Linked DNA regions of Homo sapiens: all the other regions are linked to region 2. Evidence: fine-mapped expression QTL. A gene starts in region 2. Each other region holds a variant in brackets. All regions are shown on one strand. Distances are between the middles of the regions.

Region 1 (8,000 bases), 300 kb after region 2:
GGGGGTCAGAGTGAGCGCTCCATTTGAGGGAGGCCACGCCCCTGGACCCGCCTTTTAAAGGGACAAAGCCAAATAGCATAGATATTTATAGAGGATGTCAATCCCCAGGGTGGGGCAGACCCTAGGGGTGAGGGATGGGGGTGGGGCATGGGATGGGGTGCGGGTGGGGAGGCATGGGTGGTGGGAGGAGATGGAGGAAAGGTAGCAACTGCCCCTAGCCTCCCCCCTCCCCCCTGCCGGACACACAGTTTTCCGTGGGATGAACACAGAAAGGGTTAATCAAAAAGAGTTCGATGAGCGAGTCTGACGGTCGAGTGGGGCGGGCTGGAGCAATGAGGCCGCAGGTCCCGGTGGCCGGTGGTGATGGAGTCACTTAGAAGATGAGAGGTTGGTGGTTTTGGGGGGAGAGGTGGGGTAGGGAAAGGGGTGGGGGAGGGGGGGTTAGGCAGTCCCCCCCCAGTTATCTCTGGGAGACAAGTGTCCTGGACTGGTTGAGAAGGGATTAAAAACCAGCAGCCTTCACCACCATGACCCCACAGATTCTCTTCCCATTTCCCTCCCTGCCACCCAGCAATCTCCAATGCAACTTGCAGGGGACACTAAGACAGACCATACACACCAGCAGTGGCGCCCGGAGACAAGCCCTCTCCAACCACGGCGTGGAGACAGCTGACCACAGTGCAAACGGATCGCGATAGCAGGGCTGGGTGTTATCACCCCAGTAAACCAGTGTCCCTGGCTCGCCTGTGCCCCAGCTTGGGTATCGCGATCCCGTTCTCCCCATCGTGACATCCAGTCCAGGCTTTCAGGACAGCGAGCCCGGTTTCCAGGCAGGTGCTTGTCGAAGGCCTGGCTGGCTGTACCGACAGGCGGGCACTCAGTCAGCAGCCTGGACGCCCCAACTGCCATCCTCATCGCCACTCTTGTTAATACTTTTGCCACTGCACAGTCTATCACAGCCTCTAATCCCGGTCCTGAAACAGCAATCATCCATTCAGGGGGACTCCTCTCATTTTCCAAACAATTGGCCACCAATCAAAACAAAGTAAGAAGGAGGATGTGGGATGGAGGAACAGGGAGGAGAAACAGAATGAGGGGATATTGAAGGATTTGGTGGTCCAGAGGGGAGAGGAAATACACCTCGGAGATAAGCGACACCCTGGTGTTCCAAGTAGAGGTCCCCAACCATCTATAGGTCGGCTTTTATCAACATCCACTTGGGATACCCATAATTCCCAACTACAAGTCCAGGGTAGGCGTTAGGGCAGATAGAAACGGCAAAATCATTGTCTTCTGATCACCACCCCTACTAATTATTGCAGTGAAGCCTCCTTGCCCATGTAGAGGTGGCTGGGACAGGGCAGAAGAAGGTGGCTGGGCAGGTTGGCTCAGAGCCCCCTGAGATGGGGGATGAAGGAGGTTAATTTGGCACATCGAACCCCCTCTTCTCATAGGAGCTTTGAGGTCCTTCTCTTGAATCCAGTTGGTACCGCCCCTTGGGCTAGCAGAGGAGGAGTTGAGCTTGTCTCCTCCTCCCCAGTTTCCATAGATTTGCCAGGAAGTTGGCAAGTGGGATTCTCCTTGGCTGGTGGAATTTGGGGGGACCCAAAAGGATAGGGGTAAGTTGAAAAGGAGAGCTTTTTTCTGTCTTTTTTTTTTTTTCTTACAAAGATTCTAAGAAAAACTCAGGGTGGGAGGGCTGTGGAAGGGGGACCCAATTTAGCTCCATGTCCACACTTTTGCAATGCCTCTTAGGGACCTCCTCAAAGAGAAATGGTCCCATTTCCTCCCCTCTATCCAAGGTCCTCTCCCCCCAGAGCGGCTCAGTTCCAAGGAAGTTTGGCACTTTTTTTTTTTTTTAAATGGGGAAATTGGGGAGAGAGAGTTGAGACATTTGAGGAAAGGAGGAAGACAGACAAAGACTAAGATAGAGACAGGACAGAAAACAATGGGAACCACACGGAGGAAAAAAAAATAGAAAGTCATAGGGAGCCAGACAAAGAAAGGGAGGAAGACACTTGGAGAAGGTATGGGAAGCTAGAGGGCAAATGAGAAGGAATAGGGAGATAATCCAATGCAGCAAACACTTATTAAGCACCTACTGGGTGCTGAAGAGAAGGGTGCAAGGAGGCCACTCAGAGACTCTGAGATCGGATTGGCTAATAGGGAGACGGGGAAAAAAAAAGAGATGATGGGTTTTTCAATAATCCTCATCCCTGACCCCACATCTGTGTCCCCTCTGGACAAACTGCAGCACAAAAGATTGAGGTCAGATTGCAGAAGGGACTTTCAAGAGATGGCAAAGATGGTGGAGTGAGTTTCCCAAGGTAAAATGGGGAAAGGTGTGGCTCTCTGCTCACCAACATGGTGAGTGAACTAGCTCACTGAGCTAGCAAAGTATACCTTTCAGATCACCCTGGCTGGCTGGGTAGGGGGTCCCCAAGAAATATGAATAGGGAGGGGTTGTTACACAGACACCCCAAGCAAACACTTTTCAGGAGGCCCAGCCTCCGGAGATGTGTCTGTGTGAGAGGAGTCCTGGACCCGGCTGATTGGGACCCAGACTCCAGTGAATGAGTTTGTAGAAAGCGGCTGCCAAGCGGAGGATGCAAATGATATGCAAATGAGTTCATTCAGATCCCACCTCCCCAGTCCCAGACCTTACTTCACTCTCCCTGGCTCCTTCCCTTCCTCATAGGGTCCTGGGGGGCTGTAGGGGGATATTCCAGCTAGATACTGTAATACTCGCGTGCGGGTAGAGATACTGTGAAATACTGTAAGGTCTTTTGAGAGGTGGAGGGGAGCAATGGCCCACAGAGCCGCCCCCACCTCTAACCCCAAGAGCCCCCAACGGTAGTAGAAGATATGTACAAAGTTACATCAAGAATTGTTTTGGCACTCAGATCTCCATCTGGGTTCAGTCTGGAGATTAGGGGTGGGGCAACAACAATGGGAAGTGGGGGATAGGGGAGGGGAAGTGGGGCCTGCCTCCCACCCTGGAGATGACAAGGGCATGGAAAAAGTCACCCCAGTGCCCAAGTTACAGCCTCCCATCGGGTGGAAGGGCTGGGGTGGGAAATTCAGTGCAAGGTACCTCGAAGGCTATTGCTTTCTAGGGATTTTCACATTTTGATTTGGGGGTGGCTCTCTAGCAAGGGAGAGGGATCTCCTAGGCTTTAGGGGCAGGAATTGTCTCTGTGGCTTTTCTTCCCTCCTTTTTTAGGAGAGAGACAAGGAGGCTGGATTTCCCCCAAAGTCATAGAGAAGAAAAGGGTTTGGAAGACCTAGGAGGCGGACAAATGGGGGAGAGGGTGGGCATGGGGCGCCCCTCCCCCAGAGATGCTGATGATGGAACCAGGGCACTGGGCGCCCTGCTTTGGGTTGGAGAAAGTGGAGGTGGTCTCCAAGGAAGAGAGGGAGATGGGTGGGGGTAGAGGGAGGTCTCAGCTATCCTAGTCTACATGGTTGTCAGGCCCTGAAATCTCAGTCTGCCAACAGGTCCTTAGAGCTGACCACAGCCACAGCACTCAGGGAGCCACTCCTAAACCAACTCTCAAGGCCGCCTGGCTTGTCAGACTCCATCAGAACATTCTAGTTCTCCAGAGCCCCTGGTGAGCACACCAAAACATTCTGATCCATCAGACATCACCGAAGTATGCCAGCTTGCTGGAAGCCACCAAACCAATCTAACCTATCAGACCACACGAAGCATTCTGGCCCAAGGGACCCTACTATGGCTCACTGAACTCTACACCTGGCCATACTGGCCTGACAGAGCCACCACACACTTGGCTCACCCGATTCAATGAAACAAAGCCACGCAGACACAGGCATGCACACAAAAGGCAGGGGTGGGAAGGGAGGTCTTTAACAGTAGTTTGCACTAGGTCCATCTCCCACCCCTCCCTCCAGGGCGAGTTCGCAGACTTGACGTGTTTGAATGGAGATGACCCTGACAATATTGGTTTTTTTCCGTTAGAGTCCTCCAGATTGGATCCAAGTCCCGTGCCTTATTCTCTTCCTAGGAAGACCCCCAGGCCAACACCCACCAAAGAAGGGTGTGGAGGGAGAAGGCAGGTCAGAGACTGGTCACTGTCCAATACAGGAAGTACATGCTTCAGCCTAATGACATCACAGGACGTGACCTCTAGGCATCACCGGAAGTACACCTTCCCATGATATCACCAAAGTGACCTTCAAGGAAGAACTCATTGAGACATCACAGGAAGTACCTGCTCCCTTATGTTCACAGGAAGTAACCTCTGAGGAACTGCTTCCTGTGACATCATAAGGGGTGCCCAGAAGCACCCCAGAAAGTACTCAGTGACATCACAACAGAGACCCTCATTGCCATTACTCTAAGCCATCAGAGATACCACACCAAGTTGATCCAGCCTCTTGCAAGTCTTGCCCACAGGACTGGCCCAATCCCAGAGCTGGCATCCTTCCCAGCAGCACTGTCCCTGCCCCCCCATACAACCTGACAACAAAAGAGTGAACATTCCCACCTAGGAGGGACAGCTCCAGTGGGAGGAGAGTAGCTGAGAAGATCTGGGAACTCTGGGGTCCTTGCTCCAAATGCCCCATTTCAGCTCAGACGCCTCTGCTACCTCTACTCCCATGGCTTCCCTCAGATCTAGAACTGAAAGCAGAGAGGTGGGGTGTTGTGTTTTGGGAAGGCCCCTCATTCTGGGTGACCCAGAGGCTCCCTCCCCTCCTCCCATATGGAAACAAAAACTTATAAAGGGGGAAAAAATCCTTAC[CAAAA/C]AAAAAAAAAAAAAAAAAAAGGAGGGAAAGAAAGAGAAAATAACGCTTTGTTTTCTATTAAAATCAACAAAATGCAATATATACAGATATCACACAGACCTGGGCCCTGGGACAGGAAGGGTCAGGCCCAGCCAAGCACAGGGAGGGAGGAAGGAGGGGTCAGTTCCGGGCTGGGGAGGGGGCTTCTGAGCCCCCTTCCCAACCGTCACTCAATCCTGCCTATGACTACCAGAAGGGGAGGGTGCAGTCGGGCCTACCCCAGCCCCATCCCAAGAGGAGCAGGACTACACCAAGCTGAGGTCAGGAGTTGGGGGGGAGGAGGAGAGGGAAGAGGAGGAGATGGGAGGAGAGAAAAGGGTGGGAGCACACACCACAGGCCTCATCCCACTTTCTGGGGGTTTGAGGCCCTCACTCCCTGCTCGTAGGTGACCCGCTGACTGATGAGGTATTGAGCGGCTTGCGTGGCCGCGGGGCTGCCCGTGATGGTGACCCGCCGGTTCCGCGTGCCTGGCAGGAACTCGCCCTTCTTGGAGATCTGGATGCGAGCGCCCGTCAGCTCCTGGTACTCCACCAACGTCTTGCCCCCCTTCCCCAGGATGGCTCCCACCAGGTTCTCAGGCACCGCAATCTCCACCAGCTCCTTGGCACTCTCAGCCGCCAGCTTCTCCGCCGTCAGGAAGCCCCCGGCCGCCCCGGCCGCGGCTGCAGCGGCCACCAGCGGGCCGCCCCCTCCGCCCGCCCCGCCGCCCGCCCCGGCCCCGAGGTAGCCGTTGGCGGCTGCGGCCAACGCAAAGGACCCCAGGGCTCCGGGAGGCGGGGGCGGCGGCGGGGCGGCCCCTCCGGCTGGCCCGGCCCCGGCCTCGCCCGCGTAGGATGCCAGGAGGTTGGCGGCGGCGGCGGCTGCTGGGTTGGCCCCGGCGGCCACGGCGGCCAGGACGCCGGAAGCTGCGGCCGAGTTGAGGCCCAGGCCCAGGGAGTTGGTGTTGTAGCCGTAACTTGCCAGCGTGTTAAGCGCCGTGCTGATGGCCAGCAGGTCGGTGCCTGAGAAGGCGGGCAGCGCGGCGGGAAAGGCCCCCACGCCAGCCAGCCCGGCGGGGCCCAGCAGGCCGGAGGCGGCGGCGGCCGACGCTGCGGCCGCGGCTGGCAGCACATCCGCGGGGCTGGCGTACGGAGAGCCGGTGGGGTTGGAGTTGGCCACGGGGCCTGCCACGTTGGCGTAGCTGATGTTGAGGCAGCTGCTGCTCTGGGGGTCTTCTTGTACCTTCTGCACGATGGCGCTCACGGCCTTGTGCACCTGCTCGGGCTCGCCGCTGACCGTCACCACGCGCTCCTGCAGGTTGATGCCCTCCGGCTTCTGGGACAGCTGCACCCATGCTCCTGACTGTTCCATCACGGCTTTCACCGTGGCGCCTCCCTTGCCGATGATCAGGCCCGCCGTGCTGTTGGGGACGATCAGCTTGGCCTGCGTGGGGAGCAAAAGGGAGGGTCTTTAATTTTATTTTTTTAAAAAATTAAATTAAATTAGGCTGGGCACGGTGGCTGTCGCCTGTAATCCCAGCACTTTGGGGGGCTGAGGCAGGCAGATTACTTGAGGTCAGGAGTTCCAGACTAGCCTGGCCAACATGGTGAAACTCCGTCTCTAGTAAAAATCCAAAAATTAGCCAGCTGTGTGTTGGCACATGCCTGTAATCCCAGCTACTCAGGAGGCTGAGGCAGGAGAATCGCTTGAACCCAGGAGAGGGAGGATGCAGTGAGCTGAGCTCGTGCCAAATTGCACTCCAGCCTGAGTGACAGAGGGAGACCCTGTCTCAAAATAAAATAAAATAATATATATATATATATATATAATTTTGTCTATCTATATTAGTAGAGATGGGGCCTTGCGATGTTGCCCAGGCTGGTCTTGAACTCTTGGCCTCAAGGGATCTCCTGCCTTAGCCTCCTAAAGTGTTGGAATTACAGATTTGAGCCACCAAACTGGCGAAGGGAGGGTCTTTACGGTGGCTGGAGACTGAGACGCCCCAGGTCATTCCCTACCCCTCCTCTCCAGCATCCAAAATCAGGCCCAGCATGGCCTTTTGATATGCACCAGTATGGTCCAACTGGTTGTTAAAAATATTGAAATATTTCAGGTCAGGTGCAATGGCTCAGGCCTGTAATCCCAGCACTTTGACAGGCTGAGGTGGGAGGATAACTTGAGCCCAGGAGTTTGAGACCAGCCTGGGCAACATAGCGAGATCTTGCCTCTAACATTAAAATTTTTTTTAAAAAAATTGAAATATATCCACAATGGTTGGTTAATGAATAGCCAGTATTTGAGGTCCCCTCAGTAGCCCCTCAACCACCCTGTCCCATGTACCTGGGACTCTTAGTACTTCCTCTGCGTCCAGCATCTAAAAGCTTAATGGCTAATCCAATGGGGCCCTCCAGGATCTCACTCCAAGCTTGCACAATGGCCCACCCATGCCTTCTAGTGTTACGTACTCTGACTTCCAGCCCTGGAAAAGCCTTCATTAAGCCTTACTTTACAGATGAGCCTCTTGAGGCCCAAGAGGTGAAAGGACTTGTCCTAAGGTTCCCCAGTTAGTGACGGAGCTGAAATCTAGGCTCTTGGGTTCCTGATCCATTGTGCTCCCCTAGACATGGTCTTCTCGTTGAACTCTCTGTTGTTATGGGCTGACACTGTGTCCCCTTCAAATTCATATGTTGAAGGCGTAACTTCCAGTACTTTAGAATTTGACTATATTTGGAGAGAGGGTCTTTAAAGAGATAATTAAGGTAAAATGGGGTCATTAGGGCGGGCCCTAATTTACTGACTGGTGTCCTTATAAGCAGAGGAGATTAGGACACAGATGCACACAGAGGGAAGACTGTGTGAAGACACAGGGAGAAGAAGGTCTAGGAGAGAGGCCTCAGAAGAAACCAACCCTGCTGACACCTTGATCTTGGACTTCTGGCCTCCAGAATCATGAGATATAAATACCTGTTGTTTAGACCACCCAGTCTCTGGCACTTTGTTATGGCAGCCCTAGCAGACTAATCTAGTTGTCCTGTCTGTAAAATGAAGATAACATGAAGGCTTTTGTCTGAGAAGGCAGACGTAAGTGGATGTCTTGGATGTCACACAATGGATCGGGAACCCAAGAATCTAGATTTCAATCTCCTTCTAATTCCTGGGACGGGAACTCTCCAGGATGAAGAAGTTGGTCATTTGAATCTGGTGACCTCTCCTT
Region 2 (8,000 bases):
AAGGTTGGCCCGGCAGTCTCGGCCACGGTAGCCATAGCTGGAGCCACCCAGGGGCTGGTTAAGGAATGTGTTTTGTTGTTGTTGTTTGTTTGTTTTGTTTTTATTTATTTATTTATTTTTAATTTTTTTATTTATTTATTTTTTTGAGATGGAGTCTCACTCTGTCGCCCAGGCTGGAGTGCAGTGGCGTGATCTCAGCTCACTGCAAGCTCCGCCTCCTGGGTTCATGCCATTCTCCTGCCTCAGCCTCCTGAGTAGCTGGGACTACAGGCGCCCGCCACCATGCCCGGCTTATTTTTTGTATTTTTAGTAGAGACGGGGTATCACCATGTTAGCCAGGATGGTCTCGATCTCCTGACCTTGTGATCCACCCGCCTCGCCCTCCCAAAGTGCTGGGAGCCACGGCACCCAGCCTATTTATTTTTTCTTTTTTTTGAGACGCAGTCTCGCTCTGTCTCCAGGCAGCAGTGCAGTGGTGCAATCTCAGCTCACTGCAACCTCCGACTCCCTGGTTCAAACGATTCCCCTGCCTCAGCCTCCTGAGTATCTGGGATTACAGACACACGCCACCACACCCAGCTAATTTTTGTATTTTTAATAGAGATGGGATTTCACCATGTTGGCCAGGATGGTCTCAATCTCCTGACCTCATGATCCGCCCGCCTCAGCCTCCCAAAGTGCTGGGATTACAGGCGTGAGCCACCACGCGCGGCCTGTTTTGTTTTTTTAAGACAGAGTCTGTCACCCAGGCTGGAGTGCAGTGGCATGATCCCAGCTCACTGCAACCTCCGCCTCCTGGGTTCAAGCCATTTTCCTGTCTCAGCCTCCCAAGTAGCTGGGACTACAGGCAGATGCCATCATGCCAGGCTAATTTTTGTATTTTTAGTAGAGATGGGGTTTCACCATATTGGTCAGGGTGGTCTCCAACTCCTGACCTCAGGTGATCCACCCACCTTGGTCTCCCAAAGTGCTGGGATTAGAGGTTTGAGCCGCTGGCGCCCAGCCGAGGAATGTATTTTGCATCACACACACTGGCTGAGGACCAGACTCAACAAGGTCATTGGAATGAGGTTTTTCTGTTTCCACTCTCACCCCTGTAGTGGGCTGATGGTCCCCTCCCACTCCAAAAAAAAATGAATGTCTGTTTCCTTTTTTTTTTTTTTTTTTTTTTTTTTGAGATGGAGTTTCGCTCTTGTTGCCCAGGCTGGAGTGCAATGGTGTGATCTCAGCTCACGGCAACCTCCACCTCCCGGGTTCAAGGGATTCTTCTGCCTCAGCCTCCTGAGTAGCTGGGATTATAGGCATGCGCCACCATGCCTGGCTAATTTTGTATTTTTAGTAGAGAAAGGGTTTCTCCATGTTGGTCACGCTGGTCTTGAACTCCCAACCTCAGGTGATCTGCCCACCTCGGCCTCCCAAAGTGCTGGGATTATAGGCATGAGCCACCGCGCCCGGGCTATGTCTGTTTCTTAATCCCCACAACTTGCAAATGTGACCTTACAAGGAAAATGGGTCTTTGCAGATATAATTATAGATCTCAAGATGAGATCATCCTGGATTATCAGAGTAGCCCCTAAATCCGATCACAAGTGTCCTTATAAATGACAGAAGAGGCAGCCTCAATCTCCTGGGCTTAAGTGATCCTCCTGCCTCCGCTTCCCAAATAGCTGAGACTACAGGCATGCACCACCATGCCCAGCAAATTTTTTGTATATTTTTGGTAAAGATGCAGTCTCGCCATGCTGCCCAGGCTGGTCTCAAATTCCTGGGCTAAAGCAGTCCACTTGTCTTGGCCTCCTAAAGTGCTGGGATTACAGGCATGAGCCAATGCACCCAGCCTGCCTGGCTAATTAAAAAGAAATTTTCTGTAGAGATGGGATCTCGCTTTGTTGCCCAAGCTGATAGTTATCTGGTTTATTTGTTAACTGCTCATATTCCCCAATAAGACTGTGAGTTCCATGGTGGCTGAGATTGGGCTGTTTTTTTTGTTTGTTTGTTTTGTTTTTTTCATTTCTGTATCTCCTCCTCCAGGAAGCCCTCCATGACTCCAGGCTGGGTCAGCCCTGTCCCTGTGGATTCCCCATCCCAGTCTTGCACACTCTGGGTTGTCACTCTCAATGAGTCTGTTCCCATGCTAGACTGTATGCCCCAGGAGGGCAGGCAGATGCTGTCATGGTCAGCACTGGGTCCCCAGCCCTATGTCTCAGATGTTCAGAAAATATCTTGAATGGGCCAAGCACGGTGGCTCACGCCTGTAATCTCAGCACTTTGGGAGGCCGAGGCAGGTGGATCACTTGAGGTCAGGAGTCCAAGACCAGCCTGGCCAACATGGCGAAACCCTGTCTCTACTAAAAAACACACAAAAAAATTAGCCAGGCATGGTGGCCCATGCCACCCAGCTACTGTAGTGGCCGAGGCAGAAGAATGGCTTGAACCCAGGAGGTGGAGGTTGCAGTGAGCCAAGATCGTGCCACTGCACTCTAGCCTGGGTGTCTCAAAAACAAGAAAATATCTGAATGATTGTCAATATACATATATCCTGACCCCATGAAACTGCTCTGACCTGCAGTCACTGCAAAGGGGAGCAATCTGAGGTCCTCACTTTTGCAGTCTCAGCCACCTCTCATCAGATGCTTATCAAGCCCTACTGGCAGGACATTTGGGACAGATTCCAGGGGATATTTCCAGCTGCCTCGAGAAGGCTCTGGGCACCCAGAAGGCCAGGCCATTTCACCAACCACCCTGGCTCCTCCAAAGAGGAAACCAAGGCCCAGAGAGAAGCAGACAAGGACCGGGTTCCTGGGGTGTGGACTCCAAGCTCAATAGGATTTTAGGAAAAAGTTTGGGTCCCAGAATCAGGATTGTTGTCTCCTACCTATAACCTCAGTTTCCTTATCTGGAAAGGAGGTATAATAATTTCCAAACTGTAGGCCTCAGAGCTCTTGGAGGCCACTAGTTGTAAAAAAATAAATTCATACCTGGAATAACTTACAACAGTGTCTGTCAGATAGTAAGTGCTTGAGTTATTATTTTGGATTTTTTTTTTTTTTTTTTTTTTTTTGAGAAAGGAGTCTCGCTCTGTCGCCCAGGCTGGAGTGCAATAGCACAATCATGGCTCACTGCAACCTCGACCTCCCAGGCTCAAGTGATGCTCCCACCTCAGCCTCCAGAGTAGCTGGGAACCACAGGAGCATGCCACCATGGCTGGCTATTTTTTTTTTCTTTTTCTTTTCTTTTTTTTTTTTTTTTTTTTTTTTTTGAGACGGAGTTTCACTCTTGTGGCCCAGGCCGGAAAGCAGTGGGGCAATCTCGGCTCACTGCAGCCTCTGCCTCCTGGGTTCAAGCGATTCTCCTGTCTCAGTCTCCCGAGTAGCTAGGTTTACAGGCACATGCCACCACACTCGGCTAATTTTTGTATTTTTAGTAGAGACAGGATTTCATCATATTGGTCAGGCTGGTCTCAAACTCCTGACCTCAGGTGATCTGCCCACCTCGGCCTCCCAAAGTGCTCAGATTACAGGCATGAGCCACCGCGCCCGGCCTGCTATTTTATTTCCTGTAAAGACGAGGTCTTGCTATGTTGCTCAGGCTGGTTTCAAACTCCTGGGTTCAAGTGATCCACCCACCTCGGCCTCCCAATGTGCTGAGTTAGTGTTTTATCAGTCCCTGTGCATGGGGCACATACTATGAGCTCAGTACCTTTACACATTATTTCACAGGTCTATGGACCTGAGATCATAAAATTCATTTTTCAGAGTCAAGACGACTTTTCCAGGGTCACACGGCCAGGTACGGGCTGGACTGGGGTTTGAACCCATCTCTGTCAGACTCCAGAGCCCGGGCTTCCAGCCATTCCCAACTCTTTTTGCTCAAATGCACCAATCCCACTCTGGCCACATAGCCCTTGAACGTGCTGTGCTTGTTTTGTGTGTTGCCCAGGCAGGTCTCAAACTCTTGGCCTCAAACGATCCTCCCAAAGTGCTGAGATTACAGGCCTGAGCTGCCTTGACCGCCTTTCTATTTCCTCCTGGGGGGATGGGAGCACCAAGGAGATTCCAGCAAAAGGATACACCCACTCCAGCTTGAGCCGGCAAGAAGGCAGCTCCGAGCGTGTGTCCAGGCTGTAGGTGGGTGCCAGCTCGTCTGGGATCATCATGGGCACAGGGCGGCCCCTCAGGAACATTTTCACGGAGCCATCCTCTGCCAGGACACCCCCAGAGGTCAGGCACTGACACCAGCCCCATCCCTATTCCCTCTCCTCTTCCAGCTTTATTTATTTATTTTTTTAAAGGCAGGGAAACTGAGGCCAGAGAGGCAAAGACCCAGTAGCCAAGACTCCTGACCTCTGGCTCCAGCCTGTCACCCCAACAAGCAAGCTTCCACCGAGCCCTTCCCCATCTCCCCACTCACCCACACTGAAGATAACTTCTTTGGTTTTGCTGTCAGGAAAGGACAAAGAAAAAAAAAGGGTCTTAGTATTCAGTTCAGAAAAGGGGAGAAACCATTCCTCCACCCCCACCGCTCCCCGGAGGTCTCCGATGAAAACGGGGCCGAGTAAGGGGCAGAGCGCTGCCTCTCTGCAGGCCGTGTGCTTTGCTCGGTTGATCTTGCAGAGCCTAAGACACAGGCCCAGAGAGGCAGTGATCGCCAAAGATCACACAGCACGAAGTGGCAGGGACGCGATCCTGGAAGAAGGGAGTCACCAAGGACCCTTCCCTCCTAATCAGCAAGGTGCTCCCCAGCGCCCCCCACCCGCAGTTCCCCCAGCACACCAAACGTCAAGCAGAGGGAGAAACGGGGAGAGTTTAAGGGAAGGGGCGTGTCCCCACGCCGGTCTGGGTCCCAGGGGTTGGGTGAAACCTGAGATCTAAGCCCCGGGAGCGCGGAGAGGAGATGGGGGGTGGTCTGCGAAAGGGTCTCACCCAGCTCCAAAGCTACTCATGGCGGCGGGTGGCGGAGCTTCGGGGCCGGGGGTGGAGCCGGGACCGGCTCTGCCGCTTCCGGCCCTGGGAGGCGCCCGGGCCGCCGCGCCCCTGCCCCGCCCTCCACAGCCACCCCTGGAGCCGGAGGGTCCCACCGGGTCACACATCCCGGGCTGTGGACTCCCGATCCCAGGTTCTTTCGGGGTGGGTGGGGGAGAGTGGTTGAGAACATGGACTCGGGAGCGCGCCTGCTTGAGTTAAAACCCCAGTTCTGCTAATTCCTAGCAGTGTACACAGGTCGTCCAACCTCTGCCTCGGTTTCCTCATTTAAAAAATGGGGATAATAAGAGTACCCGGCCGGGCGCGGTGGCTCATGCCTGTAATCCCAGCACTTTGGGAGGCCGAGGCGGGCAGATCACCTGAGGTCAGGAGTTCAAGACCAGCCTGGCCAACGTGGTGAAACCCCGTCTCTACTAAAAATACAAAACTTAGCCTGGCGTGGTGGCTGGCGCCTGTAATCCCAGCTACTTGGGAGGCTGAGGCAGGAAAATCATTCGAACTCGGGAGGCAGAGGTTACAGTGAGCTGAGATTGTGTCATTGCACTCCAGCCTGGGCAACGAGAACAAGACTCCGTCTCAAAATAAATAAATAAATAAGAGTACTCACACCTCCCGGGGGTAGTTGCGAGGGTGAAATTGGTTAATTATTGGGAAGTGCCTGGAGTATACACAACGCTGTATTTGTGTTTGCTATGTTTGAGCAGAGTTGAAATGTGCAGCTTTTGACCTTGGTCTTGCCCTTGCGTGGCCTCCTAGCGCTGACCACGCCCACTGCACCATAACTCCAGCCTTAGGGTGATTTTTGTTTTGTTTTGTTTTTGATACAGGGTGTGGCTCTGTCGACCAAACTGGAGTGCAATGGCGTGATCATGGCTCACTGAAACCTCGAATTTCCTAGGCTTAAGTGAGCCTCCTGCCGCAGCCTCCCAAGTAGCTGGGTCTACAAGCGAAGGCCAGCACGCCCGGCTATTTTCTTTCTCTCTCTTTTTTTTTTTGTTTTTTGTTTTTTGTTTTTTGTTTGTTTGTTTAACGGAGTCTTGCTCTGTCAGCAGGCTGGAGTGCAGTGGCGCGATCTCAGCTCACTGCAACCTCCGCCTCCCGGGTTGAAGTGATTCTCCTGCCTCAGCCTCCCGAGTAGCTGGGACTACAGGCACGCGCCACCACGCCCATTTTTGTATTATTAATAGACAGGGGGTTTCACCATGTTGGCCAGGATGGTCTCGATCTCTTGACCTTGTGATCCACCCGCCTAGGCCTCCCGAAGTGCTGGGATTACAGGCGTGAGCCACCGCGCCAGGCCTAATTTATTTTCATTTTTAGTAAAGACGAGGGCTCGCTATTTTGCCCAGCCTGGTCTCGAACTCCTGAGCTCAAGCGATGATTCCCGCCTCCGCCTCCCAAACTGCTAGAATTATATAGCCTTAGTTTTTGACTCTGTCCAGATCTTCAGTATGGCCCCGCCTCTGGAGTTGACCACGCCTGTCATTCTGAGCCTCCCTTCTAACCCTGTCCCTGAGTTGACTCAGTTGCTTGAGAATTGACTGCTACCTCCCGCCAACGCTCCTTCTCCGGCCCGCCAGGCATTCTGATTACGTCCATTTTCACGTATTCCTTATGTGAATACCTTCGAGGCCTCCAAGTTGGCTGCACCTCTTGGCATTTGACCACGCCCCTACGGCCCCGCCCAACCTTTAAGCCACGCCCTTTTCAACCTGGCAGTGCCCCCCGATTTTGATGTCAAAGCTTCTGGAATCTGGAATGCCTCCACCTGGTCTCAGCCTCTGTTACTCCGTACCCCAGATTTTAATTTCGCCCAGGCGAACACTGTGGCTGCACCCTTAAATTCCTCAGACTCCCTCTTTCCTTGTAGAAACTCTGTGGCTGCTGCCTTGACTTCATCCCTGAAACTCAACGGGGCCTCTCCTGTACCTTAATAACCACGCCCATAAGCCAAGCTCCTCCCTGACTTCCTCACCCAGTAGACCTGACCGTCCAGCTTCTAAAAACTCTGGCCACGCCCCTCAATATTGACTCCGCCCTCCCAGACCTTCCACTGTTACCGTGCCACCTCAAGATTGGTCCCTCCAAGGCTCTGGCACCGTCCCCGCTTTTGAACTAGCTGGCCCCACTCTAGGTTACGACCTCGTGGCCTGGGGCATGACTACATTTCTCGACCATTTCCTCCCTATCTCTTTCTGCGGCTTGACGCCGCCCCAGTCCTTACCCTTCCTTTTTGGCGCTACAGTTGCTGCTGGAGGATGTGGTCCGGCTGCGGGGGTCCTCACGGCGCACCGAGGCGAGGCGCTCTGGTGACAAGTAGCGGCGGACACTGCTAAAAGAGAGCACACAGGTGGGGGCAGAGCCTTCTAGGCCAGCAGGCGAGTGCCGTGAGCAAGCGAGATTCTCCCTGCACCCTCTGCTGCTGGAGCTCAGGCAAACAAACCACCTCTGTCTCCCACGAGGTCTTGGAAGAGGCTGGGGGTCCCGGCCTTGTGCCTTACCTGCGCCCGGAGGTCGCCTCCTTCTTGGGAGAGGATGGGGACGTGGCATAGCCACCCACGCGCCGCGGGGGTCCCGAGCCATTAAGGGGCGTCCTGGTGGGAAGGCCTTTCAAGAGCTGACACACTGGAGGGATGGGGTTAGGGGACAGAAGAGGGTGAGTATAAGGACCAGGCCCCGGTCCTCCCCATCCCACCCCTCCAGTCTAACGGGGATACCCGAGGCAGTGGTGCCTAAGCGCGGAGGCGCCCGGCCCTTGGGGGTGCCCCGCGCGCGTAGCGCCGCTCCCTGTTCTTCGCATGCCCGCAGGCGACGCAGAGCATCCGCCAGCGCCGCCTTTAGGACCGCCAGCTCGTCTTCCTGTAACTGCAGCCGCTGCTCCAGCGCCGACACGCGGTCGTCCACTTCCATACCGCTCGTGCCCGACAAATTGTCATCTGGAAGACGGGGGAGTGCCGGCTGCAGGGCCACCCAGGAGCTCCAGTGCCCAAGGGGTCCCTCCCGCCTTCCTGGGTCTAA
Region 3 (8,000 bases), 43 kb before region 2:
AGGGGCGCCGAGTTGGCGCCCAGCTCCGTGGCCCAGACCACGGAGCTCACGGCCACGGCGGTCTTGACGCGGCGCAGGCGGGCGAAGCGGAGTGGGTGGGCCACAGCCAGGTAGCGGTCCACCGAGATGCAGCACAGGAAGGCGATGCTGATGTAGATATTGGTGTAGAAGATGAACCCAAAGAGCTTGCAGGACCCGGGGCCGTGGATCCAGTTGTCGTGGTGCAGGAAGTAGTCCACCCACAGCGGCAGCGTGCAGATGTACAGCAGGTCGGCGATGCTGAGGTTCATCAGGTAGACGCCCAGCTCGTTGCGCTGTTGCACCTGGCGGTAGGCCGCCCACAGAGCCAGGCAGTTGGTGGGCAGCCCCACGCCGATGACAAAGATGTAGAGGGATGGCGGAAAGAGGTGGTCCACGCGCGAGTCCACGTGGCAGCCCTCCCACGTGTGGTTGCCCATGGTGGGCACTTCGGCTTCTGGGGCGCTTCCCCTGGCCCACGGGGGCTGTGGGGCCACAGGGAGCGGGAGGCCATGGGGCCCCCTGAGCCCCTTCCTTGGAGGCTCAGGGGAACATGGTGGGATGTGGTCTACAGGGAAGAGATGAGGTTGGGTAGGCTGGGCTGGGCTGGGAAGGGCAGAGCTTGAGAGGGAAAAGTTGGAGGAGGGATGGAATTATGACAGGAGGGAAGTCTGGAGGATGGTGAGATTAATAAAGAGGTTTTTCAAGGAGGTTATGTATGGAGTCAGTGTGTCAACGAGGGAGTATGGGGGTGACACAAAAATTGGTCTCCGGGAGTGTTTATGGAGGAGACGAAAGCATCGCTGGGCAATGGTGAGAAGGAGATGGTTTGCAGGGCAATTAGGAAGTATGTGTAGCCATATTGAAGTAATAATGGCGGGGGAATGTTCTAGAAGACACAAGAAATACATGAGAAAGTGTTGAGATAGGACACAGCGCAGTTAGGGAGTGTTGGAAAGTTCAGGCAATGTGGGTGGGAGTGCTGGCATTTCCTAGGACCCCAGAAAGCAACAGAGATAAGTAAGGTCACCAGTAAGGAGAAGGTTCTGGAAAAGGAGGTGTCTGGCACAGGGTGGACAAAGATAAAAGGCTCGGTCTGTGGACGGCAGGAAGGAGTCTTAGGAAACAGGAAGGAGGTGAGTAAGGTCTAGATCAGAGGTAAGTTTGGGGACGGAAGGGAAATTTCAATGGGGGCAGGGGAGGGACTCCAGACTGGTCCTGGTGGGGGCTGAGGGATTGGGATGAAGTCAGTTCACCGCTGACTGCAGTGCCTGTTGGGAGAGAGGACAGCAGTGAGGGAGTCATGGACACTCCAACCTTCTTCTCCCCACACTCCTCACCATAATTGCTGTGAACTGCAGAGACTGGACACCCCAACAATGCCTACTTCAGCCCCATCCTAAGCAACCACTCTCTGAAAACACAGATTTGAGGTGTCAGGCATATTTTCCCCTGACAGATATTAGAATAAAGACCCAACTCAGGCCGGGTGCAGTGGCTCATGCCTGTAATCTCAACACTTTGGGAGGCCGAGGTGGGAGGTTCGCTTGAGCCTAGGAGTTCAAGACCAGCCTGGGCAATGCAGTGAGACCCAGTCTCTACAAAAAATAAAAATAAAAATATTAGCCAGGTGTGGTGGTACATACCTGTAGTCACAGCTACTGGGGAGGCTGAGGTAGGAGGATCACTTGATCCCAGGGGATTCAGGCTGTAGTGAGCTATAATCACACCACGGCACTCCAGCTTGGGCAACAGAGTGAGACCCTGTCTCAAAAAAAAAAAAAAAAAAAAAGGTAGGGTGTGGTGGCTCGCACCTGTAATCCCAGAACTTTGGGAGGCCGAGGCAGGCAGATCACGAGGTCAGGAGTTCAAGAACAGCCTGGCCAACATGGTGAAACCCCATCTCTACTAAAAATACAAAAATTAGCTGGATGTGGTGGCACGTGCCTGTAATCCCAGCTACACAGGAGGCTGAGGCAGGAGAATTGCTTGAAACCAAAAGGCGGAGGTTGCAGTGAGCTGAGATCGCACCACTGCACTCCAGCCTGGGCAAAAGAGTAAAACTCTGTCTCAAAAAAAAAAGAAGAAAAGAAAAAAAAGAAAAAAAAAAGGAAAGAAAGAAAGAGAAAAAGGGAAAAAAATGACCCAACTCAGATTTTAGCATTTTCCTGCAGAATTCCTGTAAAACTGGCACAGGTATCATATCATGCTTCAGGAAATGCCAGACTAGTCTAACTCTATCATGTCACAGACAGGGAGAAGGGGCCCAGAGAGGCTGAGTCACCTCCCTAAGGATGCACAGCATGGCAGCAATAGGGCCAGGGCTGGGGCCAGCCTCCCACTCCTTACCCAAGAATCCCATTCTTGTCAACAAGGATAATAACAGCAAACGTTAATTGAGCCCTACTACATAGCAGATCCCATTCCAGGCATTTTTATGCATATTATTTCTTTTTATTTATTTATTTTTTGAGACAGGGTCTTGCTCTTTTGTCCAGACTAGAATGCAGTAGCACGATCACAGCTCACAGCAGCCTCAACCTCCTGGGCTTCCAGTGATCCTCCTGCCTCAGCCTCCCAAGTAGCTGGGAACACAGGCATGCACCACCATGCCTGGCTTAAAAAAAAAAAAAAAAAATATATATATATATATATATATATATATATAAAATAGATGCAGGTCTTCCTGTGTTGCCCAGGCTGGTCTCTTGAACTCCTGAGCTCAAGAGATCCTTCCCTGTAATCGCAGCACTTTGGGAGGCTGAGGCGGGCGGATCATGAGGTCAAGAGATCAAAACCATCCTGGCCAAAATGGTGAAACCCTGTCTCTACTAAAAATACAAAAATTAGCTGGGCATGGTGGCGCACACCTGTAGTCCCAGCTACTCAGGAGGCTGAGGCAGGATAATCGCTTGAACCTGGGAGGCGAAGGTTGCAGTGAGCTGAGATCACGCCATTGCACTCCAGCGGGGGTGACAGAGCCAGACTCCGTCTCAAAAAAAAAAAAAAAAAAAAAGAGATCCTCCCACCTTGGCCTCCCAAAATGCTAGGATTATAGGAGTGAGCCACCATGCCCGGCCAATTTATGGATATTACTTCTTTGAAATTTTCAAGACTCCTATGAGGAAAGTAGTTGTTCTTTCTCTTTGACAAACTGAGGCACAGAGCTGTTCCAAGACCTGTCCAAGGTCCTGATGTCTAGAGTGCAGCCATCTCTGCTCTCAGTCCTCATCTCCAGCCTGTGCTTCAGTTTCCACCCCAGAATAACTGGACAGGCCAGGCACAGTGGCTCATGCCTGTAATCCCAGCACTTTGGGAGGCCAAGGCGGGAGGATCGCCTGAGGTCAGGAGTTCAAGATCAGCCTGGCCAACATGGTGAAACCCTGTCTCTACTAAAAATACAAAAATTAGCTGGGCGTGGTGGCACATACCTGTAATCCCAGCTACTCGGGATGCTGAGGCGAGAGGATTGCTTGAGCCCAGGAGGCAGAGGTTGCAGTGAGCTGAGATAGCATCACTGCACTCCAGCCTGGGAGACAAGAGAGGAACTCCATCTCAAAAAAAAGAAGTCCAGGCACGGTGGCTCACGCCTGTAATCCCAGCACTTTGGGAGGCCAAGGCGGGAGGATCACCTGAGGTCGGGAGTTCGAGACCAGCCTGACCAACATGGAGAAGCCCTGTCTCTACTAAAAATACAAAATAAGCTAGGTGTGGCGGCACATGCCTGTAATCCCAGCTACTTGGGAGGCTGAGGTGGGAGAATTGCTTGAACCCGGGAGGCAGAGGTTGCAGTGAGCTGAGATGGTGCCATTGCACTACAGCCTGGGCAACAAGAGCGAACTCCATCTCTAAATAAATAAATAAATAAATAAATAAATAAATAAA[TAAATAAAA/T]AATAACTGGACAGAAAAGGGCCCTGGGCTGCCAGTGGGGACTGGGAACCAAAGCTGCAGAGGAGTAAGGGAAAGGGGAGAGCCAGGAGCTGCTGGGAACAGTCAAGGTCAAGATCAAGATCAGGGAGCATGGGGAAGCCCTGGGGTTAGCGCCAGCAGTCTCCTCCCTCAGGGACCACTCTCTTCACTGTCTCTGCCCTTTCCCCCGCAATTTTCCTGAGTGAGAACCTTGAGCCTGTCACCCACTTTGTTCTGGGAAGATCTGCATACACAGGGCAAAGGATATTCATGGACCAAGCCCCTGACTATCATCAACCCCGCAGAGAAGCAGAGCCAAGTCCAGAGTCACAGGCAGCTTCAGGAGCCATTCCATCCAGGGGTCTTTTGGTTTAGTTCTTTTGGACGTGAAACCTGGCTTTTTTTTTTTTTCCCCCAACAAGATCTTAACCAGAAACCAATCTAAAACAGTGAAAAGGGTGAGCTGCTAGCTGCTCTGGTGAAACAAGGTGGGGGTGGAGAGGCCACCTCTGAAGAATCCCCAGGATGCACTTTTAAAACATGTTAAAAATGGAGTTTAAGGTGGAGTCTATTGACAAATGAGGAAACCAATCCCCAGAGAGGGGACGGAAGGAGGTCCATGGGAGCCTCCCAGATGCCAGAGCATCTTTCCATGGGAAAGTCCTCTGGGCTCCACCTCCCCAGTGCTTCCTGAATCTGTGTGCGTCTCTCTCAAACGCCTGCCACTGTCCACTCTGCGTCAGCATCAGCGTCATCACTCGCTGGGATCATTGCAGTAGCATCACCATTGCTTTTCTGGGCTACTCTGGCTTCCTTCAAATCACTTCCCATATGGCAGCCAGAAAGATCTTTCTTTTCTTTTCTTCTTTTTTTTTTTTTTTTTGAGATGGAGAGTTTCACTCTTGTCACCTAGGCTGGAGTGCAATGTCCCAATCTTGGCTCACCACAACCTCTACCTCCCGGGTTCAAGTGATTCTCCTGCCTCTTCCTCTGGAGTAGCTGGGATTACAGGCATGCGTCACCACGCTCAGCTAATTTTGTATTTTTAGTAGAGACAGGGTTTCTCCATGTTGGTGAGGCTGGTCTCGAACTCCTGACCTCAGGTGATCCACCCACCTTGGCCTCCCAAAGTGCTGGGATTACAGGCGTGAGCCACCGCGCCCGGGCAAGATCTTTCTATCATGAAAATCAGCTCTTTCTTTTCTTCTTTTCTTTTCTTTCTTTCTTTCTTTTTTTTGAGACAGGGTCTCACTCTGTCATGCAGTAGTGCAATCTTGACTCACTGCAGTCTTGACCTCATGGGCTCAAGCCATCCTCCCACCTCAGCCTCGTAAGTGGCTGGGACTACAGGTGTGTGCCACCACACCTGGCTAATCGTTCTATTTTTTGTGGAGATGGGGTTTCCCCATGTTGCCCAGGCCGGTCTCCAACTCCTGGGCTCAAAAGATCTTCCTGCCTTGGCCTCCCAAAGTGCTGGGATTACAGGCATGAGCCACCACATGCAGCCTAGTTCTTGTTACTTCCCTGCTTGAAACCCTCCAATGGCTTCTGAATGGACTTGCGGTAAAATCCAGACTCCTCATCCGGAGTCACAAGGTTCTGTCTGACCTGCTGGGGCAGCCTAGCCAATCTCACTCACCTCTCCTTCCTGCCTCAGCAGTCTCAAGGCCAGTGAGTGACCTTCTTTCCAGCCTCAAACCTTTGCACACTTACCATACTCTCAGTCTGGAATGCTCTTTTTTTTTTTTGGAGACAGAATCTTACTCTGTCGCCCAGGCTGGAGTGCAGTGGCACGATCTCGGCTCACTGAAACCTCCGCCACCTGGGTTCAAGTGAGTCTCCTGCCTTGGCTTCCTGAGTAGTTGGGATTACAGGTGTGCACCACCATGCCCAGCTAATTTTTGTATTTTTAGTAGAGATGGGGTTTTACCATGTTGGCCAGGTTGGTCTCGAACTCCTGTTCTCCAGTGATCCACCCACCTTGGCCTCTCAAAGTGCTGGGATTACAGATGTGAGCCACTGCTCTTCCTTCAGATAGTCTGAGTAGCTCCGTTCCCTCCTTCACTTCCTCGGGAGTCCCTCTCCATTCAGTCCCCGACTCTCCCCTGCCCCAGGACCCTCTCCTCACATCACCCTGTTTTGTTTGTGTCTGTCTGCCTAGAATAGGTTGTCCAGGAGGGCAGAGACTTTGTGTGCCTTGTTGACTGCTGTATCCCCAGCATCCAGGACAGGCCCAGCATACAGTAGGTGCTCAATAAATTACCAAGGTCATGGTCAGGGAGCACAGAGCCATTTGCCAATGGCAAAAACCATTCCAGAAGCTTTGCAGAGGCCAGAGGCATGGAGTAAAAACATACTCTCTGCCCATGAGGCTGCCCCACCCCACCCCAGGCTCAAACAAGGGCATGGGGAGGAGGGGGAAGGGAGGGAGAGGAGTCCATTCCCAGGGGAAGAGGTGGTCAGGGGAGAGCTGGAAAGGGCAAGATCTATCCGCTTCTTAATTGACTTTGAAAGGTCAGGGCTGAGTCGTGCTCAGTAAGTCCTGCCCCCTGTGGGGTCCTCAGCGGCAGAGCTGCCTCCCCCACCCCAGACTCTTGGGCAGAAGCTTGTGGGTCCTGTGGAGATGGGATGGGTGGGGGCGTACTCCAGGCTGGAACAGTGTGATCCAGTCCCTCCCTTCCACTTGAAACCTCCCACCCAGACCAAGTCACTCAAAATAACCTCCCTCCCCTCTCCTCTGCCCTCTCTCTCCCCATCTCTCTGCCCCTAGTCTCTCCCTTCCTCCTGTGACATTTAGAGAATTAGGTCTCCAGGAGCCTCAGTTTCTCCCTTCTGTAAAAGGGGGCACAGGCTTTATAGTCATCACATCACAGACCGGAACGTCCTTGCTAGAATGCGATATCAGCTCCGTAACATGCAGTATTTGAACGATTATTATTATTCCACGGGGACTAGGGGGCTGAGACAAGAAATAAACCGGTTCTTCATGGCAGGAGACACCCACCGAGGGCTAGAAGTCCCCTTTGCCCCACTTTCTATCGACCCCCAGGGCTCTGCTGACCTAACTCGGGTACCCGGGCAGGAGACACTTCCGGCAGCCAGAGGAGGAAATACACTTCCCATTGCTAATTTCCTCAAGGGGGAACCGGTCCAGCTCTCACCCCTCCTCCCTCCCACCCCTCCTCCCCAACCTGCTGGCATCTTGCGGATGCTGGACATGGGGGGGAGGGGTGCCCAGACAGCCCTCTCTTCTTCCCCACGTGAGATCTGCCCAACGTGGAAACCCCAAAAGTCAGCATGGAACGTCAGACTCTTAGAACGCCACAGTGCAGCCGACGTATGTGTGGCAGCTGGGAGTGTGAGGCTATTTCTGACCCCTTCCTGGTACAGATGGGGAAACCGAGGCCCGCAGCAGCAAGGCAGTTGTCTAAGTCACTTGATGTCTCAAGACTGGGCAAACCTCCTGTCGCTGTTAACTAAACAGCTTCCCTTCCCCTGAGGTTTTTCTCTTCACTCTCTGAACTTCTGTAATTTTTCTCAAGTCTTTCTGAGCGTCTCTGGCCCCTCTGAGAACCTACTAGAAGATACGACCTTCTCCCCACAAAGAAAGCAAGCGACCTTCCATCACCTGATCCCCATAACCCCGTTCCCCTTCCAGGACCCTCTCTGGTTGGGATCTAAGTTCTGCCCCTTAGGCTCTGTTGAGGGGGTAAACCCCCAAATCTCACATCCACAAGAAGCTCCCCCTGTCTGTCCCACAGGCCCCCACTTCTTGGGTCCCTGCTGGCCCCTTCCAGAGAGTCGGGGGGAAGAGAAATATACCCAAGGATGGAGAGATGGTGGGGGGACAGGAAAGACTAGGAAGACCTGGCCCCCCCAACTTTAGCAGCCTCGGCTGCCGCATCCTGCCAGCCACCCCAAAATCCAGCAAAGCTGAAAAACTTGGAGGATTTTGAGGACAAGAGGGAGAAGTGCTACAGCCCCCCGCATCCCCCAGCACCCCTGGGCTCACTCACCAGCCTTGTCCCCGATGCCACCAGGCTATCTCACCTCCCCCTTTTCCTCCTCTGT
Region 4 (8,000 bases), 130 kb after region 2:
GGGGCTGGCGGCAGGACCTGGGAGACGAGCATGCTGGTGGGGAAGGTGGCGGTGAGGATGATCTTGCCCTGCTGCAGGGCCACACCCGTCACGATGGGGCTGCCAGACACAGGGTTGGCCAGGAGGAAGTTTCCTGTGGGGAGAGAGGGACCGAGCGCAGGTGAGAGCCAGGAGAGCAGGCCAAGCCAGAGAGAAGTGGAGACTGTGCAGCTGGAGGGCGGGCGGAGGGAGCCTTGTGGTGGGCCTTGGGGCACTGGGACTTGCCAGGGATGAGATGCCCTCCAGGAGCCCAGGGACAGCCCCTCCCTCTCCGAGATGACTGCACCCCTCCCCGGCTCTCACCTAGGCCTGAGGGAGGGAGATGGGGGTACCTGGGGCAGTGGCCGAAGGCAGCTGCAGGGCAGTCACGCCCACCCCGGAGTTGATGAGGTGCACATTGGCAGGGCCTGCTGCAGCTGCCACCTTCACAGGGCTGCCTGGCCCGGCTGCCAACAGCTGCAGGGGCCCCACAGCCTGGGGCAGGGTCACCACCTGTGAGGTGGGTACTACCTGGGGCAGGTTCAATAGTGGGGAGGTGGGGCTCAGGCCCGTGGGATACCCCGGGGGTGGGGAGAGCGGTACCACTTGTGGGGCAGCCACAGCAGGCACTGGCCCCGGGGGCAGAGGAAAGGTGGCAGCCGTCGGGGGGCCAGGCACCACTTGGGCCAGGGGCCCCAGGACCTCCTCTCCAAGGGCTGGTCCCGGAGCAGCCACCTGGGCCCCTTTGGTCTCAGGGGCCTCCGACTGAGCCTCCTCCAGCCGCACCTCCCCTGTCTGAGGGTCCAGGACCAGAGAGGTCTTGGTCTCGCTGGCCCCCTGAGGGCTGGGCTGCGGTGGAGGGGCACCCCCGCCCCCAGTGAGCAGCAGCGGGCCCAGGCTGGAGGCCTCGCCCAGGGCCAGGCCGTTGATGATGACGGGGCCCCCGTTGAGGAGCACTGCTGGGGAGCCGCTGGCTGCCAGGAAGCTCCCGTTCACCAGGATGGAGGAGGAAGCCGGGCAAGGCGCGGGAGGGCCGGTCCCTGCCAGGAATATGGAGCCCTGGGCAGCGGCCTCGGCGGACACTGGGGCCGCCCCTCTCTCCAGGTCCTCAGGACTTCGGCTGGACTCGTCCTCAGTCGTGGGATTCCCATCAGACTCGCTGGCCGGAGAAATGGCTGTCAGCTGGGGTCCCTTAGCCTGTGGGGCCTCCCGCATAGCCAGCCAGCTGCTCCCCCACCTTTCCCTGGCCCAAGTTTCGGTGGATCATTCCAGGGGTTATGACGCCTCTCTGAGACCACTCCAAACTCCAGGGCCTTTTGCAAGCCCTGCGTGGACACCACTGCAGAGAAGCGCTGGGGAGGGAAGAGGCCCTTGCTCTCCCCCACCTCGGCCTCGGGTCCCCAGAGGCTGAGCTCCCAGGTTGCCCTAAAAGTTCCTTGGTTGGGCGGAAAGCGGGCGAGTGGCCTGGAGAGAGGGAGCAGCAGCCGCCAGCCCAGTTCCCGGTGCCCTCCCCGCGGGGCGTCAGAGAAGGGAGAGGCCGGCGCTCAGGGTGGGAGGAGAAGGGTTTGGGTTACAGGGAAACCGGAGCTGGGAAAGGTTCACGTTTCACAACAAAGGCAGAAGACGGACCACGCCGTCCGGGCCCGGAGGGAGTGTGGGGGCGGGTGGGTAAGAGTAACGGTCAGTGAAGAAAGGGGGCTGGGAGGCAGCCCCTACGCGGAGTGGAGTGGCCACAGGCCCTGTCCTTTTTCCTCAGTCCCTCTAGTGCCCCCCGCAGTGTGATTCCCCAACACCGATGGGATTTGGGAAGGAGCTCGGAATGGAGCCGCTGGAAGAGGAGACGCGTGCGGGGAGAGGGCCCGGGCGGGTGCCTGTCCCGTCCACACTTAGTCCCCGCGCCCCGCGGGCGCCTGAGATTGTGAGCTGGTCCCGGGAGATGTCCGAGGACCTCGGCGCGCCGGCCCCAGCAGTGGGCACGGGGGAAGAGGGCTGGTGGACGGGATGTCCCCGGGAGAGCTGGACTTGCGCCGCCCGAGGCCCCTCACCTCTTGCAGGGCGCGCCGCCTCCGGCCCCGGTCCGGTCGCGCTGTCGCCGGTTCTTGAACCAGTTGCTGACCTGCGTGAGCGACAGGCCGGTGAGTGTGGCCAGGCGGCGCTTCTCGTCCGGCGTGGGGTAGCGGTTGCCGCGGTAGCAGGCCTTGAGCGCTGCGCGGGAGCGCTCCTTGAAGCAGTAGACTGTCTCCTCGCCGTCCCAGATGGTCTTGGGCAGCGGGAACTTCTTGCGCAGTCGATACTTGTCCACTGCGCCAAGCGCGCGGCCGCGGGCCCGCTCGGCCTCATGGTAGCGCGCGCGCAGGTAGAGGTCCTGCAGGAAGGCGTGGTGGGCGGCGGGGAAGGGGCGGCTCTCGAGTAGCCGGTAGAGCTCGGCGTACTCGCCCCGCTGGAAGGCCACCAGGGCCCGCGCGCGCAACACCGGGTCGCTGCCACGTAGGCGCTCGGCCGGGGGCAGTGCGCCCAGGAAGCGGCTCAAGCGGCCGGCGTGGCCCGCCTGGAGCAGCGCCTCGCAGACGCACGCCACCTGCTCGGGCGAGAAGCGGAGGCCCGTGGGCGGTTCGGAAGCGGCCTCGGGGGGCGACCCGGGGACGCCCGGGGATCCCGGGCCCTCAGCTCCCGCAGCCGCTGCGCCCGCCCCGGCCCCGGCCGCCGCCGCCGCCTCACCCTCGGCCGCCTGCAAAGTCTGCAAGAGCTGGCGCGCTTCCTCCTCCTCCTCTTCGGTCGCCGCCGCCGCCGCCACCGCCTCCCCCCCAGCCGCCGGCCCCGCGCTCGGCTCCGCAGGCAAGGTAGCCATGTTTTGCAACTTTGGGAAGTTCCTCCCTCCCTCTCTTCCTCCCTCGGGCTTTCCCCAGCCTCCTCCCCCACCTGTCCCCCCTTTTCGCCCCCACTCCCCGCTCTTCTCGATCTTCTTTCTGGCCGACCCTGCGCCCCACGCCGGGAAGGCGAGATCCAGCTCTCCACTCGGGTCTCTGTCCCCTTGTGTGTGTCCGTCCCCCTCCCGTCTGTCTGTGATTCTCCCTTTGTTTTCCCTCCGCCTCTGGCCGCGCTTTCTGCCTCCCCCCAGCGTGTGCTTCTGGCTCAGGGCCTCAGTTTCCCCATCGGGACAACGCAGAAGGTAACGGGCCGTCCAGGAGGACTAAGGGCGCGAAGCCTCCGCCCCGAGACTGAGCTTCTGCACGCCTCCGTCTCCAGGGTCCTCTGCAGGCCCCCACATTCCCCATCTCGGCCTGCGCTCCGCCCCTCGGAATTCCCGGCTCCGCAGGGGGGGCGGGTCTGGCCGGGAGGAGGGGCGGGGAACGGGCTAGAAAGTTTGCAGCAACTTTTCTCGAGCTTGCGTCCCAGGAGCGGATGCGCGTGGCGTGCGCAGGCGCAGTGGAAGGAGGATGGCCGCGCGCGCTGCCAGCCCAGCCCCCTCTTCTCGACGCTCGGTGGCACAGCTGGGCCACAGCTGGGCGGGGGCGGTGCCTCCGGGTGGCCCGCTCGCCCTCCTATTGGCCGGACGCCAAAGCCCCGCCCCGTGGCTTTTCCTCCCCCAACCCTGATTCGGCCGCTTCGCATCCCGCTAGCTCCTCCCAGACCTTCGGCCGCCTCCACACGCCTCCGGATTGGCCCGCTGCGGAGCCTCCGGCCCACAACGCAAACCGCGGACACTGTGGAGTCCAGAGCTTTGGGCAGATGGAGGGCCTTTTATTCGCGAGGGTCGGGGGTGGGGGTCCTAGGTGGGGACAGACAATAAATACCGAGGAATGTCGGGGTCTCAGTGCATCCAAAACGTGGATTGGGGTTGTTGGGGGTCCTGTAGCCTGTCAGCGAGTCGGAGGACGAGGTCAATAAATATCCAAACCGCCGAAGCGGGCGGAGCCGGCTGGGGCTCCGAGAGCAGCGCAAGTGAGGAGGGGGGCGCGGGATCCCCGAAAAAGCGGGTTTGGCAAAAGCAAATTTCCCGAGTAAGCAGGCAGAGATCGCGCCAGACGCTCCCCAGAGCAGGGCGTCATGCACAAGAAAGCTTTGCACTTTGCGAACCAACGATAGGTGGGGGTGCGTGGAGGATGGAACACGGACGGCCCGGCTTGCTGCCTTCCCAGGCCTGCAGTTTGCCCATCCACGTCAGGGCCTCAGCCTGGCCGAAAGAAAGAAATGGTCTGTGATCCCCCCAGCAGCAGCAGCAGCAGCAGCAGCAGCAGCAGCAGCAGCAGCAGCAGCAGCAGCAGCAGCATTCCCGGCTACAAGGACCCTTCGAGCCCCGTTCGCCGGCCGCGGACCCGGCCCCTCCCTCCCCGGCCGCTAGGGGGCGGGCCCGGATCACAGGACTGGAGCTGGGCGGAGACCCACGCTCGGAGCGGTTGTGAACTGGCAGGCGGTGGGCGCGGCTTCTGTGCCGTGCCCCGGGCACTCAGTCTTCCAACGGGGCCCCGGAGTCGAAGACAGTTCTAGGGTTCAGGGAGCGCGGGCGGCTCCTGGGCGGCGCCAGACTGCGGTGAGTTGGCCGGCGTGGGCCACCAACCCAATGCAGCCCAGGGCGGCGGCACGAGACAGAACAACGGCGAACAGGAGCAGGGAAAGCGCCTCCGATAGGCCAGGCCTAGGGACCTGCGGGGAGAGGGCGAGGTCAACACCCGGCATGGGCCTCTGATTGGCTCCTGGGACTCGCCCCGCCTACGCCCATAGGTGGGCCCGCACTCTTCCCTGCGCCCCGCCCCCGCCCCAA[C/G]AGCCTACAGCTGTTGTTAGTCCACTCGCACGCCTCGAATCCCGTCCGAACTCGTCATTGGCTGCTTCCTAGCGGCCTGTGTTGATTGGCTGCCCGAAGATCCGCCCTCCTGCCGTGGGCCCAGCCCCGCAAATGCGCAGCTAAGCGGGTGGCAAGGGGCGGGTGGAGCGCGGGGCGCGACGGCGGAGGGGGGCGTGGGCAGCCGGACGTACCCTGGCAGGGAGCAGCAGGTGGCGGCGGTGCATGGGGCCTGGCCCCACCAGCGGGCACTGGCCCACAGCCACGGCCGGGGGGCCATCTAGCTGGAGAGAGAAGGGACAGGTGACCCGATCGGAGCCCAGCCCAGCCCTCAGCGGTGGGGCGAGAGACAGCGAGGGGAATCGAGGTTGGGGAGGTTATCTAGGGAGATCCCGGAGGGAATCTGGTGAGGCCTGAACGGAGGGAGATCTGGGGCTGAATAAAGGGCTTCTGCCCTCTAAAGTCGCAAAGACGTAGGGTGAGCCCTATATCTGGACGGGGAGACCAGGAGCCAGGGAGGGGATCTGCAGAATGGGCAGCAGGTCTGAGGCAGGGGAAAGAGAGGGGTCTTACATGGGAAGGTGGATCCGTGGCCCGGGGACTGGGGACCCCCGTGACAGCTGGAAGGAGAAGAAAGAGGCATAGGGCGCGTGGAGGGGCGAAGGAGGGCGGTGGCGCGGCGTGCCCCAGCGTGGGTCCCTTCCCTCCTCCAGGTGTCTATACACGCCCCGCGGAGCAGACGGCCCACCTCCTCCCGGTCCTCCGGGGAAGGGGACACATGAGGGACTCACCTGTGGCTCCCTCTGCCTGCAGCAACTCCATCCGCTCCTGCAACTGCCGGACGTGTGCCTCTAGGTCCCGGTTCCGAGCCTCTGCCTCGCGTAGTTGACTGTGGGGAGGTAAGGACGGTGAGTCCGTCCGGGCCGGACGAGAGGGGATGCCAAGGGTTGCCACCGGCCCGCATCCCGGCCCCGGCCCCGGCCCCGATCCCGACCTGGCGAAGTTCTGGTTGTCCGTGCGGATGGCCTCCATCTCCCGGCTCAGGCTCTGCCGGGTGAGCACCTCCTCCTCCAGGGCTTCCTGGAGCTCCCGCAGCGTCACCTCGGCCTCAGCCTCTGCCGCAGGGACAGCCGCTGGAACTGCCACTTCAGCCTGTGTATGGGGACCAGGCTTAAGGCTGCCTGTGGCTCCTGGAAGACTCAGGACTTGGGCACTGGTTCCAGGCTAGGAATCCTTGTTTATCCCCTACTCCTCCGTCCCCTCAACATTTCTGGAATCCCCATAGCTCCTGCAATGATCCAAGCCCCCTCCCTTCCCTACCTCCCTCAGCCCCATCCCTGAGTCTGGTCCTCTAAATCTACACAGGGACCAGAGGGCTGGTGCTCAAACACTAACACAACCTATGTCCCTCTGCTGCTCAAAATCCCTCCAGCTCCCTAATGCCCTCACGACAAAAGGCCTTGCTGGGTTTTGTTTCCTGCTGGCCTCTCCAGCCTTCTCAGGAATGATTCAGCCAAACTACCTTTCAGGAACAAATCAGGATTCCCACCTGCCCAAGGCCTTTGCCCTGGAGGCTCTCGCCTGACCACTTGGCACCTTTCCTTCCATGGCTTGTTTCTCCTTCACCAGCGCTCAGCTCAAAGATCGACTTCTCAGATCCCCAGCAACACACACACCCTTACTTAATGCCCCACTGTAACTACAGAGACCGTCCCATGTCTGAAGTAACCTCGTCTCTCCGTGGTTTCTGTCTGCTTCTGTTCAGGAAGTCCCTAGAGGGCTCTACAGTGCACGCCACCCGGGAAGCCCTCACCTTTTCTCTCCCAATTGTCCCTGACGGACCCCCTCCCCTCCACCAACTTACTGTTTCATCCTGTGGGGACACCGAGGGCTCCAGGCTGGGCGCTTGCACGTGTGGCTCAAGCAGCTGCTCGGCCTCCAGTTCCATGGGTGTGGGGCCTGGGACCTCACTGTCCCTGGGGAGAGGAGGAGGGAGTGGGGAGGGAGACAGAATGCTGATTCTCTGGTGGAGAACCAGAACTTCTGGCCTGTGGGTAGGGGCAGCTGCTTCCAAGACCTCCTGATTTGAGGAAGGGGAGCAGCAGAGCGAAGAGAACAGAGTCCCAGGTAGGCCAATAGCCCCTCCTCTGCTTAGGAAAAGCCCTGCCCCTCTCCTGGCCTTGGGCCCCTGGGAGCTGCTCTTTCTAAACCTTCTGCAGGGACTTGGGGTCCAGACCCCCATGTTCTAGGGTCAGCTCATCTCCTCCCTTGACATGTGACCGCTGCAGACCCCTCTTCTCAGGGCCTCAGGACAGGGAGGCCGACCTGATGGGGAGACTGCTTGGCTCTGGCCACCTCCACAGATGTGGTCCTAAGACTGGGCATGGGACCCCAAGATGGCAACTTGAGGTCAGCACACCCCACTCAGCTGTGGGAAGGGGACAGCTCCTCCCTGGGGTATGAAGTGGCTGTCCCCTCCAACCCAGCAGTCCCTCCTGTGGGAACACGGCTCAGGACCTAGCTATCCTGGACATGCGCCTGGGTTCTAATAGAGGATGGGTTCAATCCTGACCCACCGTTCAGGCCCCGCAGCGGTTCAGAATCAAGCTGGAGTTCATTAATGATAAGGTATAGTATGTGTAATGTTGTCCAGTAATAAAAGCTGACTAGAAAACCAACTGTTCTCTTAGACAAAGTAGCATGAGGAAGGGGAAAAAAACAAACCAAAAAAACACCTGTTCTCCACTATTTAAACATGTGTCAGTACACGTGTGAGCCAGGGACCACTGCCATCTGGTGAGCTCACGAGATATCAACTTCCTTTTCCTTATCTGTATTTTCTAATTTACTTGTGATAAGCAATGCATTATTTGTGTAATTAATACTTTTGTTGAGACCAGGTCTCACTTTGTTGCCTAGGCTGGAATCTATCATGGCTCACTGAAGCCTCAAACTCCAGGCTCAAGTGATTCTCCTACTTCAGACTCCTGAGTAGCTAGGACTGCAGGCACAGACCACCATGCCTGGCACGATTTTTTCAATTTTTTGTAGAGACAGGGTCTCATTATGTTGCTCAGGCTGGTCTTGAACTCCTGGGCTGAAGCAATCCGTCCACTTCAGCCTCCCAAAGTGCTGGGATTCCAAGCGTGAGCCACCATGCCCAGCCTGTAAATTAGTACTTTTTTTTTTTTTTTTTTGAGAT

The links. PIP is the estimated chance that this variant, and not a neighbour inherited with it, causes the effect.
Region 1: its variant is fine-mapped to the expression of EML2 in whole blood (INTERVAL, PIP above 0.99).
Region 3: its variant is fine-mapped to the expression of EML2 in whole blood (INTERVAL, PIP above 0.99).
Region 4: its variant is fine-mapped to the expression of EML2 in whole blood (TOPMed, PIP 0.98).

The regions. Positions count from the first base shown.
Region 1 is chr19:45,934,717-45,942,716 of GRCh38, forward strand. It overlaps NOVA2 (NOVA alternative splicing regulator 2), which reads right to left. Exons shown (of 4, transcript NM_002516.4): 4 at 1-6,229. The coding sequence ends at 5,147. Among named protein-coding and RNA genes, the nearest start is that of NANOS2, 24 kb to the left of the region's middle. RefSeq lists a cis regulatory region at 5,007-5,106. The variant CAAAA/C (reference allele first, on the strand shown) is at 4,764.
Region 2 is chr19:45,634,435-45,642,434 of GRCh38, forward strand. It overlaps EML2 (EMAP like 2), which reads right to left and starts at 4,963. Exons shown (of 19, transcript NM_012155.4): 1 at 4,923-4,963; 2 at 4,411-4,439; 3 at 4,071-4,200; 4 at 1-37. The coding sequence starts at 4,942. It overlaps MIR330 (microRNA 330), which reads right to left and starts at 4,653; the gene lies at 4,560-4,653. It overlaps EML2-AS1 (EML2 antisense RNA 1), which reads left to right and starts at 7,060. Exons shown (of 2, transcript NR_130729.1): 1 at 7,060-7,332; 2 at 7,791-8,000. RefSeq lists enhancers at 3,789-4,640, 3,877-4,171, 4,641-5,492, 7,467-7,526 and silencers at 3,877-4,171, 4,868-5,147, 5,168-5,257.
Region 3 is chr19:45,591,409-45,599,408 of GRCh38, forward strand. GPR4 (G protein-coupled receptor 4) reads right to left here. Exons shown (of 2, transcript NM_005282.3): 2 at 1-1,289. The coding sequence starts at 458. Among named protein-coding and RNA genes, the nearest start is that of GPR4, 6.8 kb to the right of the region's middle. RefSeq lists enhancers at 5,968-6,605, 6,606-7,242. The variant TAAATAAAA/T (reference allele first, on the strand shown) is at 3,904.
Region 4 is chr19:45,765,979-45,773,978 of GRCh38, forward strand. SIX5 (SIX homeobox 5) reads right to left here and starts at 3,274. Exons shown (of 3, transcript NM_175875.5): 1 at 2,064-3,274; 2 at 372-1,177; 3 at 1-133. The coding sequence starts at 2,866. DMPK (DM1 protein kinase) reads right to left here. Exons shown (of 15, transcript NM_004409.5): 10 at 6,663-6,774; 11 at 5,793-5,950; 12 at 5,590-5,687; 13 at 5,372-5,418; 14 at 4,993-5,082; 15 at 3,739-4,662. The coding sequence ends at 4,510. DM1-AS (DM1 locus antisense RNA) reads left to right here and starts at 1,818. Exons shown (of 2, transcript NR_147193.1): 1 at 1,818-2,153; 2 at 5,512-5,905. RefSeq lists enhancers at 993-1,628, 1,693-2,252, 3,744-3,823, 3,984-4,093, 4,534-4,613 and 1 more and silencers at 1,994-2,123, 2,574-2,793, 3,154-3,693, 3,545-3,729, 4,254-4,413 and 1 more. The variant C/G (reference allele first, on the strand shown) is at 4,781.